Linked DNA regions of Homo sapiens. The protein of the gene in region 2 interacts with the protein of the main gene of each other region in a biochemical or structural test. Each region holds a gene or a part of one and is shown on either strand. Other genes may lie near its edges. The genes, in order: LRP2, DLG4 and TANC1.

Region 1 (3,746 bases), on a different chromosome or scaffold from region 2:
CTGCCCGCTCCACCTTTTTTTCTTTAAGCCTAAGTTTTCTCTTTTTGTGTCTATTTATCTCTTTTTGTCTTTCCAAAGTAACACCTATCCTTTCCCTCCCCTAGCCCCCACACCTAAAGCTGCGCCTACCACTGCAGCCCACGGAAGCTACGCGATCCGGACTGTTGGGGTCAGCAGAGCCCCGGACGACCTGTGCCCCGGGGAAAGGGGCTGGCAGTAATTGGCAGGTTCTCGCCCCTGGGGAAGGGAGGCAGCGGGAACCTGTCCAGCGACCACGTGCGTTCAGGGCTGTCTCCTCCATGCGTCACGGCCCCTTCGCTGGAGGGAAAGGGCTCCTGACTTCTTGGACCAGGATCCGGAGCCTGGGACTAGCTGCCGCGCTGGTTCAGGGGCTGGAGCTGGAGATGATGGGATGGCCTCAGGCCCGCAAACAGCCCCTTCTCACACAGGGTTCCCACCACCGGGAAATAACTTGCATCAACCCTCCTTTTTTACCCCTCCCTGTGGGCTCTGATGTCACGTACAGGCTGAGGACGTGCGCTGAGGGCGGGTGTAAGGCCACTTGTGCTTTTGGCTTCCGGGCCCCTTGCCAGCCTGTCCAAAGCGGCCCCAAAGAAGGGAGGCTAGGGGTTCCCTGAACCTCTCGTGTTTCTCCTTCTTATAAAAGGGTACCGGAACCATGGAGAAGACGTTCGCTCTTTTTCAATTTTGCTTCAAAATGAGCAGACTTGTAAGAAGCACGATCTGGCCATGACACCTGTAGATGTGGTGCTGAATAATTGCTAAATAAGGATCCAACCTCCCCAACAAAGATCCACCTCCCTCTCTAATTTGTAAAAACACAAAGCACCCCATCTCAGCAGCCTGTATCCTATCAGGGGAAACCAAGATATCCGAAGGAGCCTAGAGAGATCAGGCCAGGAATGAAGGTCACAGATCTCCATCCAGCAGGCTCTTTACTCCTTCCCTTCCCTACCCCCGCCTCTTTCCCTTTCTTTCTCTTTCCTTCATTTTTACTTGTCTGGTTGTGCTTTCCTTTTCCATTTCTTATTTTTTCTTTCTCTTCTCTATTCTTGACTTTCCTCCTCGTCCATTTCTTTCCATTGCTCATTTAGTAAAACTGCGTCCGTGCAGATTTCCCCGTGAGCCGCCTCGCCGGCTTCTGTGCGGGGCAAACCCTGCGGAGAGGCGAGGGCAGCGCGTGTGCACGTGTGAGTGTGCCTGTGAGAGTGTGCGCACAGGAGTGTGCTCTTGTATGCACGCGTAAAGGGGACTGTGTATGTCGGCGTTGAAGTGTGACTGTGGAATGTGCGCGCGTGTGTGACTGGCGTGTATGAGTGAATCTGTGTCAGTTGGTGTGACACTTAGGAGTGCATGCGCCTGTATGAGTGCGTGTGTGAGTGTGCACACGCCTGTGTGAGTGTCCCTGTGTGAGCACGCGTGTGTTCGAGTGCCCACTCCTCCCCGCGCTGCAAAGTGCAGGGGGCGGGCCGGGCGGCAGGGGGCCTGCCCGCTGGATTCCCGCATGCTTGTTCCGGGGCGGTCGGGTCTAAAGGGCTTTATGCACTGTCTGGAGGGTGGGGACTGGCGCGGGTAGAAAACGGGATGCCTCGGGCGTGGGGGCAGGCTTTTGGCCACTAGGAGCTGGCGGAGGTGCAGACCTAAAGGAGCGTTCGCTAGCAGAGGCGCTGCCGGTGCGGTGTGCTACGCGCGCCCACCTCCCGGGGAAGGAACGGCGAGGCCGGGGACCGTCGCGGAGATGGATCGCGGGCCGGCAGCAGTGGCGTGCACGCTGCTCCTGGCTCTCGTCGCCTGCCTAGCGCCGGCCAGTGGCCAAGGTAAGAGCCCAGCCAGAGCCTCTCGTGGAGCCCCCACTTCCCCGGCTGTGGCAGGGTCGGGTCCGCGGGAGGCCGGAGGGGAGAGCGTCCGGGCAGGGGCTAGGGCCGGGCGGCGGCGCGGGAGCTGCTCCCGGTGGGGCGCTCAGGTTGCTTCGCGAAGCCGGAGCGGGAGCGCCCCTCTTCGCTCGCCAGGAACTGAGCGGCAGCAAACTTGAGAAAGCAGCCCCGCCAGTTTCGGTGACAGCGCACCCCACGGAGACCCTGTCTTTGTTCCCACGGGCGTTGGTCCGATGCTCCTGGAAAGCACTTTGCGGGAGAACGAGGTTCTCCGCCGTTTGCAGCCTGCCCTCCCTAGCGGAGTTCTCTGCTGGGCGGCGCGGTCCCGGGCTCTGCTCAGAGCGCAGCTTTCCACCTGCAGCGCCCCTCCCGGGATCCCTTCGCGCGCCCAGGGCCGCGGGCCAGAGCACTCCTCCCACCACCGGCGAAACTTGGTCCCGCGGTGACCCCCAGAGACCGCTCTCACCATACAGATCATTTACGAGCCAAGATAAGGCCGGGAGGTGGGATTGGCCGAGAGAGTGGCTGAGGGACTGGAGTCTTTTCTTGAAGTTTTCCTTTCCAGCTGGGAGCTGGGGGCTTTTGTGTTGATGAATGGGGCCCGTCTGCATGGCCAGAGTTTTGGGGATCGAATGCAGAAAGTTTCTAGTATGAAGTGCTTTAAACTTCTCTCAAGTTGTCCGATAGTTTATGTTTTAACAGAAACAGAGAAGAGGGAAAGAGAGGGAGAAAGAAGCGGAGAGAATAAAACTAGTAAGAAGGGAAGAGGAGAGAGCGTAAGAGAAGCAAATAGGAATAAGGAAAGAAGGAGGGAAGAGAACGACTGGGGCGGGAGAAGAGAGAGAGAGAGGAGAGAGAGGAGAGAGACAGAGAGAGAGAGAGAGAGGGAGAGAGAGAGAGAGAGAGAGAGAGACAGAGAGAGACAGAGAGAGACAGAGAGAGACAGAGAGACAGAGACCCGGCCGAGGATGAATGGGAAGGGCGAGGAGGAGGCTGGAACCGGCGAGCTCTCCCCCTGGCTTTGCGTTGCTAGGTAGCAGCCGGGAGCTGCGTGTGACCGACCACCAGACAGACAGAGGGGACGCTGCTGCCACCGCAGGGACTAATCTGTCTGTGGGGATGGGAGAGTCCCCCCTTTCCCCTCCTGCTCCTTCCCTCCCGTCGGACAACTTAATTGCCCTACAATGAAAATGAAACCCCTATTGTTGTAGGATTAGCCAAAGCAATAAATTGATTTTCCTGGATCACATATTGGGGTTGATGGGTGGGGAATGTGGAAGCCCCCATTTACGGAGGAGTGAGGGGAGGGCTTGTGGATGGGCCGTGGCATGTATTCAAATGGTTAATCTGCTTTCTTTCCTCAATTCTTAGCGTAAGCTCCTTAGAGGGAATCAAGTAAGTAATTATACAGCAACTCCTAGCAGCACCCATTTCAGACTTCCTGGGAAGAAGTTTGGAAACCCTAACAAACCCCACAGGTCTTGCAAAAGTCTTCAGAAAGGCAGGAGAGGCAAGGAGAGATCATTAATAACCTTCCTTTGAACACCCTTTCTCAGTGTTGGTAACGCAGAAAGAGGGTTTATTATTATTGTGCAGAGTTTGCACAATGCTTAGGGTTGTATCTCATGTCCTAAATATAGCTATAGGATTTACTATATGTTCCTGTCAGTGCCTGGCAAAAGGAAATCTTACCTTGATTCATCTATGTCCTTGTACAACCAAAACAGATATTCTTTTTCCTGGGTTGATGATTTAGTCACTAAATAACCAATACCTACTCTTCTTGATAGTTTTTTGCACCCATCCATCTTCCATTCTATGATAATAATATATAATAATAATGTGTATAGT
Region 2 (3,746 bases):
TCCCCCAACCCTGCGCTCGGCCTAAGCCAGGCTCTCTCTGCAGTGCACTATGCTCGCCCCATCATCATCCTTGGGCCCACCAAGGACCGCGCCAACGATGATCTTCTCTCCGAGTTCCCCGACAAGTTTGGATCCTGTGTTCCCCGTGAGTGCTGGGGCCTTGGATGGAGGAGAAGGTGGAAGTGGGGGTGGGGCAGGGGAGGCCCATCCCTGGGGCCATAGGCAGAGCCTCCTGGGGGATCGGTGTGTAGGGAGATACAGGGTTTCTCCGAGAAGGGGTGCTTCTCAGCCACCCTCTCATTCCATAGTACCCATGCCCAGGCCAGAGACTTGGAGGCCCTGGAGGGTGCTAGGGGAAGCGGTTCTGGCCCTCTGCAGTCTTGGTCTCCCTGGCAGCTCCCTTTCACCAAAGGACCAGCTGGGCACTATGGGGATTTGATTGAAGTAGGCAGGATTTAAGCTAGAGGGATGGTGGTTAGATCTTTGGGGGGTGGGGTGACTTCCTGGCAGATACGACACGGCCCAAGCGGGAGTATGAGATAGATGGCCGGGATTACCACTTTGTGTCGTCCCGGGAGAAAATGGAGAAGGACATTCAGGCGCACAAGTTCATTGAGGCCGGCCAGTACAACAGCCACCTCTATGGGACCAGCGTCCAGTCCGTGCGAGAGGTGGCAGAGCAGGTAGGACCTGGCGGGCACCCGGTCCTCTTCCTTCTCCCCTCTCCCCACCCCACTGCCTCCCTCCAGCTTTCTCTAACTCTCTCTCTCTCTGTCTCTTTCCCTGCTGGGTCTCCACTCCGCTCCTCCACCTCCTTCTCCTCTTGGGCAACTCTGTCTGACTGCCTGCTCTCTGCCCCTGCTCTCTCTCCCACCTCCCTCACTTCCTGACCCCAAATTCCCCACCACCATCTGGCCTCTTTCTCTCCCCACTCCCTTCTCCTTGCCCCATTTCTCCTCTCTTCCCATGGCCTTGTCTTTGGTGGCTTGGCCTTCCCCACTGGGTCCCTCCCTTTTTCCTGACTCCCCGCTGGCCCTCTCCCCTGCCTCACCCTTTTCTGGGGCCCGGCTCCCCTCTCCCACTCCTCTGCTAACTCCTTTCCTTTCCCCGCTGCTCCTCACCCTGCCCTCCCTCCCTCCCTCCACGGTTCCTTTCTCCATCTGCCTCACTCCCTCCCATCTGTCTCCTTGTTCCTTCCATCTGTCTGTCCTCTGTCCGTCCTCCCCTCCCTCCTCCCTCTATCCTACTTCCTTTCTCCTTTTTCTTGGCTTTCCTTCCCGCCTGTGTCACCTCTGCCTTGCACACCCCGCCCCACTCGCTGCTGCCCCGGCTCTGCCACCATCTCTTGGGTCCCTGCCTGCCTGGTGCTCCTCCCTTCCTCCATTCTGTCCTGTCCCTGCCCTCTCCCGTGCTCTCCATCTTCCCTTTCCTTTCCCTCTGTCTTTTACTCTGTCCATACCCGCTTCCTGCCTGACTCTCTGCCCCCGTGTTTCTTGACATCCATGTCACTCCCCTTCGGCCAACTTCCCATTCCCCACCTCTCCCCGTCCGTGTCCCTCCGGCACTGCTCTCTGTCCTTTCTCGCCACCCGCTGGCCCCCCTCCGCCCACCCTGCCTGCCCCCAGGGGAAGCACTGCATCCTCGATGTCTCGGCCAATGCCGTGCGGCGGCTGCAGGCGGCCCACCTGCACCCCATCGCCATCTTCATCCGCCCCCGCTCCCTGGAGAATGTGCTGTGAGTATGGTCCTGGGGGCCTCCCCTTTGCTCCCCCAACACCTGTGGCCCTGGGCCTCACAAGGCGTCTGCGTTCAACTCTCCCTTCAGAACCCTGGACAGCGGTTTCAGCAGCCCCTGAGGGGGATCCCTGGAACCCAGAGGATGTGGGGGAATCGGGTCTTTCCCCTCCTCTCCTGCCTTGGCTAGACAGGACTACATTTCCCAGCAGCCCCTGGGGCATACCAGCTGGGGCGAGTCAGGGCCTCTAGGGCTGTTGGGAATTGGAGTCCGAATCCCATCTCTGGGGCTGAAGGCTGGAAGGATGAAGCTCCGTAGATGTCCCTGGAGTAGCCACACCTGGCTGGGGCGGTTGCGGGTGGCAGGGGGGTGGGGGGTGGTTCTCATCTGTGGCCCCAGAGGATATTGGGAATTGTATTTTTTTTTTTGCTATGTGCTCCAAATAGAAGAATACTTAACATTCCTGGATAGAGGAGATAAAAGGCAGGGTCAGGTGGGTCCAGTCTCAGGCCTGCTCTCCCTCCCTCTTCACAGAGAGATTAACAAGCGGATCACAGAGGAGCAAGCCCGCAAAGCCTTCGACAGAGCCACCAAGCTGGAGCAGGAGTTCACAGAGTGCTTCTCAGGTGAGGCCACAGCAAGGCTGTTGCCAGCATGTAGGGTGCCCTTGCTCGGATTAGAAAGAGCTCCCCCGCCACCCCCAGTGGATGGCTTAGAAAGAGGTGCCCCTGTGGGCGCGGCATGGTGGCTCACGCCTGTAATCCCAGCACTGGCGGGCACCTGTAATCCCAGCTACTCGGTAGGCCGAGGCAGGAGAATCGCTTGAACCTGGGAGGCAGAGGTTGCAGTGAGCCGAGATCGCACCACTGCACTCCAGCCTGGCGCTAAGAGCAAAACTCAATCTCAAAAAAAAAAAAAAAAAAAAAAAAGAGGTGCCCCTGTGGGCGGGTGCAGCCCCAGGACTTATGGCTTGGAGAGTTGGAAAGAGGTGCCCCTTCCTCTGGGCTGGTGCAACCCCCTTGGCCAGGTGTCCTCTGGCCCTTCCTTGGCCTCACTCCCTGCTCCACCCCACTCCCAGCCATCGTGGAGGGTGACAGCTTTGAGGAGATCTACCACAAGGTGAAGCGTGTCATCGAGGACCTCTCAGGCCCCTACATCTGGGTTCCAGCCCGAGAGAGACTCTGATTCCTGCCCTGGCTTGGCCTGGACTCGCCCTGCCTCCATCACCTGGGCCCTTGGTCTGGACTGAATTGCCCAAGCCCTTGGCTCCCCCCGGCCTCCCTCCCACCCCTTCTTATTTATTTCCTTTCTAACTGGATCCAGCCTGTTGGAGGGGGGACACTCCTCTGCATGTATCCCCGCACCCCAGAACTGGGCTCCTGAACGCCAGGAACCTGGGGTCTGGGGGGGAGCTGGGCTCCTTGTTCCGAGCCCTTGCTCCTTAGGATCCCCGCCCCCACCTGCCCCCAATGCACACACAGACCCACCGGGGGCCACCTGCCCTCCCCCATCCTCTCCCACACACATTCCAGAAGTCAGGGCCCCCTCGAGGAGCACCCGCTGCAGGGATGCAGGGCCACAGGCCTCCGCTCTCTCCTAAGGCAGGGTCTGGGGTCACCCCTGCCCTCATCGTAATTCCCCATGTTCCTTGATTTCTCATTTATTTTTTCCACTTTTTTTCTTCTCAAAGGTGGTTTTTTGGGGGGAGAAGCAGGGGACTCCGCAGCGGGCCCCTGCCTTCCACATGCCCCCACCATTTTTCTTTGCCGGTTTGCATGAGTGGAAGGTCTAAATGTGGCTTTTTTTTTTTTTTTTCCTGGGAATTTTTTTGGGGAAAAGGGAGGGATGGGTCTAGGGAGTGGGAAATGCGGGAGGGAGGGTGGGGGGCAGGGGTCGGGGGTCGGGTGTCCGGGAGCCAGGGAAGACTGGAAATGCTGCCGCCTTCTGCAATTTATTTATTTTTTTCTTTTGAGAGAGTGAAAGGAAGAGACAGATACTTGAAACTTGGTGT
Region 3 (3,746 bases), on a different chromosome or scaffold from region 2:
TGCCCCCTTTCTCCCCACGTTATGAAAGTGTTCACTGTACAAAGAACTCTTAAGCCTTTCTGGGTCTTGGTTTTCTCATTTTTTTCATCCCTAAAATGGGATTACCTTGCATCCCTAAAGTTCTGTGACTCTCCAAAAGTTTGAGAAATGTAGGAATTCTGAAGCCAGTGCTGTAATGTTAGAACACTGCTATGGGGTTTATAAGGGCTTGATTTACACATTTTATCCCTAACCCTTTATTTGAATAAACCAAGGCCTAGAAAGTTAAATTAGACCTGTATCATCTATAAATAGTTGAGTTGAACTTGAACCAGAGTCTTCTGATTCTCCCTAGTCTCTTCTCCTCTGTTTATTCAAACCTGCCAAACAGACTAAAGTTAATATGTGGCAATTTCTCACAATACATTTTTAGGGTTATATATGAGTTATTTTGATTTCAGAACCCCAGGGTTAACATCTATGCTTTGATGTCAGGGATTAAAAACAGTTCACCAATAATGGTAATAAAACTTTCTCCTCAAGAGAGTTTCAGAAAGTCACATGCTTCAAACTAATCATTTGTTTATTTTCAACTTCTTTTTTATTAAGTAGGCTTCAGGGTGTAATGTGATTTATAATCCGGACTAGTAACCCAGACAGCATTCTTAAGGAAATCACTTCTCAAATCTGTACCTCTTTTTAAAAATAAAAAATGAACATATCATTTGCCTTTGATCTTGGTATCTCTCAGCCTAATTGCAAAGCCTGGGTGAGTATTCCTTTTTTTGGTGTCATCATTCTTGGACTGTTCCTACTGATGGCTGGATAAGTCTGATTTTGCAGCACTTTCCATGCTAAATACATCCTTCCCTTATGCTGTTGGGTTGATGGTAAAGAGGTAGTAGGTTGCAGGTGACCCATTTTTGCTGTGTCTCTAAATGTTTGTGCTTTGTCCTGCTTGCCTAGTTAGCAGCACTCACTGCAGCTTGACACTCATCTGGAGGCTGGTATTGATTTTCTTTAACAGGTTCTAAAATGCAATTATGTGTTAAGCTGTAGGCTCTTTTATGTCTGAGCAGCTTGTCCATCTTCAGCTTTTTAAACTTATTCTCAGAGGAATGTCTTTTCAAAATATTAAGCAATGGGGTTTAAACCTCAATAAGAAGATGTATCAGTGCTCATTGGCTGGGAAGGAGGTGTAGTATATCTGAAATTGCCGCCATTTCCATGAGTGAGAGAAGAGAACATTATGAAGTGCTATTAGCTAGAGAAGTTGGGACACTTTGTACCAGGAGGGCACAAGAGCAGCAAAGGAGAAGAATGATTCTTGGTTTTTAATAATATTATCAGGAGCATGGATTTGGAATGATAGAGGACTTTGAAGAAGGCTTTCAGAGGACATTATCTTGTGGAGAGTGAAAGGAGTTCTCCTGGTTTGGTTTAGCTGTGTTGCTGATGGAACTTGCCCTTCTAGGGTCGGTGTTGTCTTTAGGTTCCCCTGCAGGTGGGTGTGATCAAGGAGAATGTTCTAGAAAGAAGAGTTCCATAGACAGAATGTCAAGGACAAAAGTGTTGCAGAGGGATGACATAGTTCCTGGATTTTAGCACAGATTTTTTCGCTAACATGAGGGAATTTATTAGGGGAAACCTTCCAGTTGTAGAGGTAGACAGATGCGAACCCATCATGTTCAGTTCACATAGCCCAGAGCCACAGTGACTCAACCTCTTCCCTGCCCCACCTCAGCACACCTAGGGTTACGTGCCAGTCATGAACAGTGGCTTATTACCTCTTTGGGTAGGAGATGGGGGTGGAGAGTAGGGAAGTCTCTCAGAAGCACTCAGCTGTGACCTTTTCATGCATGTATACCCATGCAAAAATGGGATCCTCTGTTGCATGAGCTTTTGAAGAAATATGAAAAAGATCATACGTATACGGCTGCTGGTATTATAGCTCTCAAGCCTCACATCCAGAATTGGCCTTTTTGATGTTAGTTCCAATTTGGGAAAGCCCTGGAGGGAACCCGAATTGGCTTGATGCCAGCCAAAGGAGAGTTACGGTTAGACCCATAAAATGGGGCTGTGGGGAGACAAAGTATCCCACAAAGAAGAGGGTTATTGTTAATGGAAGAGGGAGGGAGCTGGATCAACAAAAGAGCTAGCCAGGGCAGTGTACATTTCCACAAGTGGTACTGCTGATCATAACAACATACCAAAGGATATGAAGATTCTTAATGTTGTTGTGATGTACACCCCTGTAGTCTTGAGGGCAGTGGACTTGTCCACATTCTGTGGGACTCTGAATTGCTATGTACACAGACATGAGGGGGTATTGAATTACTGCTAAAAACGTAAGAGTTGGTCATTATTCCCATGTAACCCATTACACTCCCCTCTCTCTGCCATGCTTTGTTCTAAATTACTTGGGATAAGTAACATTAATTATTAATGTTTATTGAGTGCCGGCTGACTCTGAACTACATGTTTGAATTTTAAAAGTCTGTGGATGAAACAGTTTGGTTCTTTCTTCTCCTGTTGTCCTACATACGTAGAATACTATGGCAGGGATGGTCACCATACAACAGCATTCTGTGTTCTGGTCCTCCTTGCTTCTTGTGGCTTAACAACAACTGTTTATTTGCTTGGGATTCAGAAATGGGGGCCAGGTTCCCTGTGCCTAGGCTCACTGGTGCCGTGGTGGTTACATGATTCATTGAGGGCCATTGCTGCAATAGTTTACAACATTATAACCATCCTTGATACCTATGGAAGATTGGTTCCAGGATTCCCACGGATACTAAAATCCTCAAATGCTTAAGTCCCTTATTAAAAATCATGTATTATTTGCATATAGCTTATGCATACCCTCATATATATATATTTTTTAATTTTATTATTTCGAGACAGAGTCTCACTCTGTTACCCAGGCTGGAGCACAGTGGTACAATCTCAGCTACTGCAACCTTTGCCTCCCGGGTTCAAGTGATTCTCCTGCCTCGGCCTCCCGAGTAGCTGGGATTACAGGCATGTGCCACCACGCCTGGCTAATTTTTGTGTTTTTAGTAAAGATGGGGTTTCACCATGTTGGCCAGGCTGGTCTTGAACTCCTGACCTCAGGTGATCCACCTGCCTCAGCCTCCCAAAGTGCTGGGATTACAGGCGTGAGCCACCTTGCCTGGCCTCCTTTGTATTTTATTTTGAGAAAGGGTTTCCATTTGTTGCCCAGGCTGGACTGCACTGGTGTGATCATGGCTCACTGCATCCTCAACCTCCTGGACTCATGCAATCCTTCCACCTCAGCCTCCTAAGTAGCTGGGAGTACAGGTGCACACCACCACACCCAGCTAATTTTTGTATTTTTTTTTTTTTTTTTTTTTTGTAGAGACAGGGTCTTACTATGAGACCAGACCAGGCTGGTCTCAACTCTTGGTTCAAGTGATCCTCCTGCCTTGGCCTCTCAAAGTGCTGGGATTACAGGCATGAGCCAACCCCCCAGTCCTCCTTCATACTTTAAATCATCTCTAGATTATTTATAATACCTAATATAATGTAAATGCTAGATAAATAGTTGTTATTCTGTATTGTTTTAAAATTTATATTTTTATTGTATTTATTGTATTTTATTGTGTTTATTGTATTGTTATCTTTTTTCCAGTGGTCAGTTACTAGAATATTTTTTGAATATTTTCTAACCTAGGTTTGTTGAATCTGTGGCCATGGAACCTGAGATATGGAGGGTTGGGTGTGGAGGGGGGTGACTGTGCTTACTA

What was found.
Region 1: the proteins of DLG4 (region 2) and LRP2 form a complex in vitro, tested with the Homo sapiens proteins (2 studies listed by BioGRID and IntAct, with this or other methods).
Region 3: the proteins of DLG4 (region 2) and TANC1 interact in a test that uses a peptide from one of them, tested with the Homo sapiens proteins (2 studies listed by IntAct, with this or other methods).

The regions. Positions count from the first base shown.
Region 1 is NC_000002.12:169,360,413-169,364,158, reverse strand, and holds the start of LRP2 (low-density lipoprotein receptor-related protein 2 precursor), read left to right. Parts: upstream 1-1,624; 5' UTR 1,625-1,759; coding exon 1,760-1,838; intron 1,839-3,746. UniProt on the Homo sapiens protein: Multiligand endocytic receptor. Acts together with CUBN to mediate endocytosis of high-density lipoproteins. Mediates receptor-mediated uptake of polybasic drugs such as aprotinin, aminoglycosides and polymyxin B.
Region 2 is NC_000017.11:7,189,882-7,193,627, reverse strand, and holds part of DLG4 (disks large homolog 4), read left to right. Parts: intron 1-43; coding exon 44-145; intron 146-510; coding exon 511-683; intron 684-1,625; coding exon 1,626-1,735; intron 1,736-2,269; coding exon 2,270-2,361; intron 2,362-2,813; coding exon 2,814-2,920; 3' UTR 2,921-3,746. UniProt on the Homo sapiens protein: Postsynaptic scaffolding protein that plays a critical role in synaptogenesis and synaptic plasticity by providing a platform for the postsynaptic clustering of crucial synaptic proteins.
Region 3 is NC_000002.12:158,971,576-158,975,321, forward strand, and holds part of TANC1 (protein TANC1), read left to right. Parts: intron 1-3,746. UniProt on the Homo sapiens protein: May be a scaffold component in the postsynaptic density.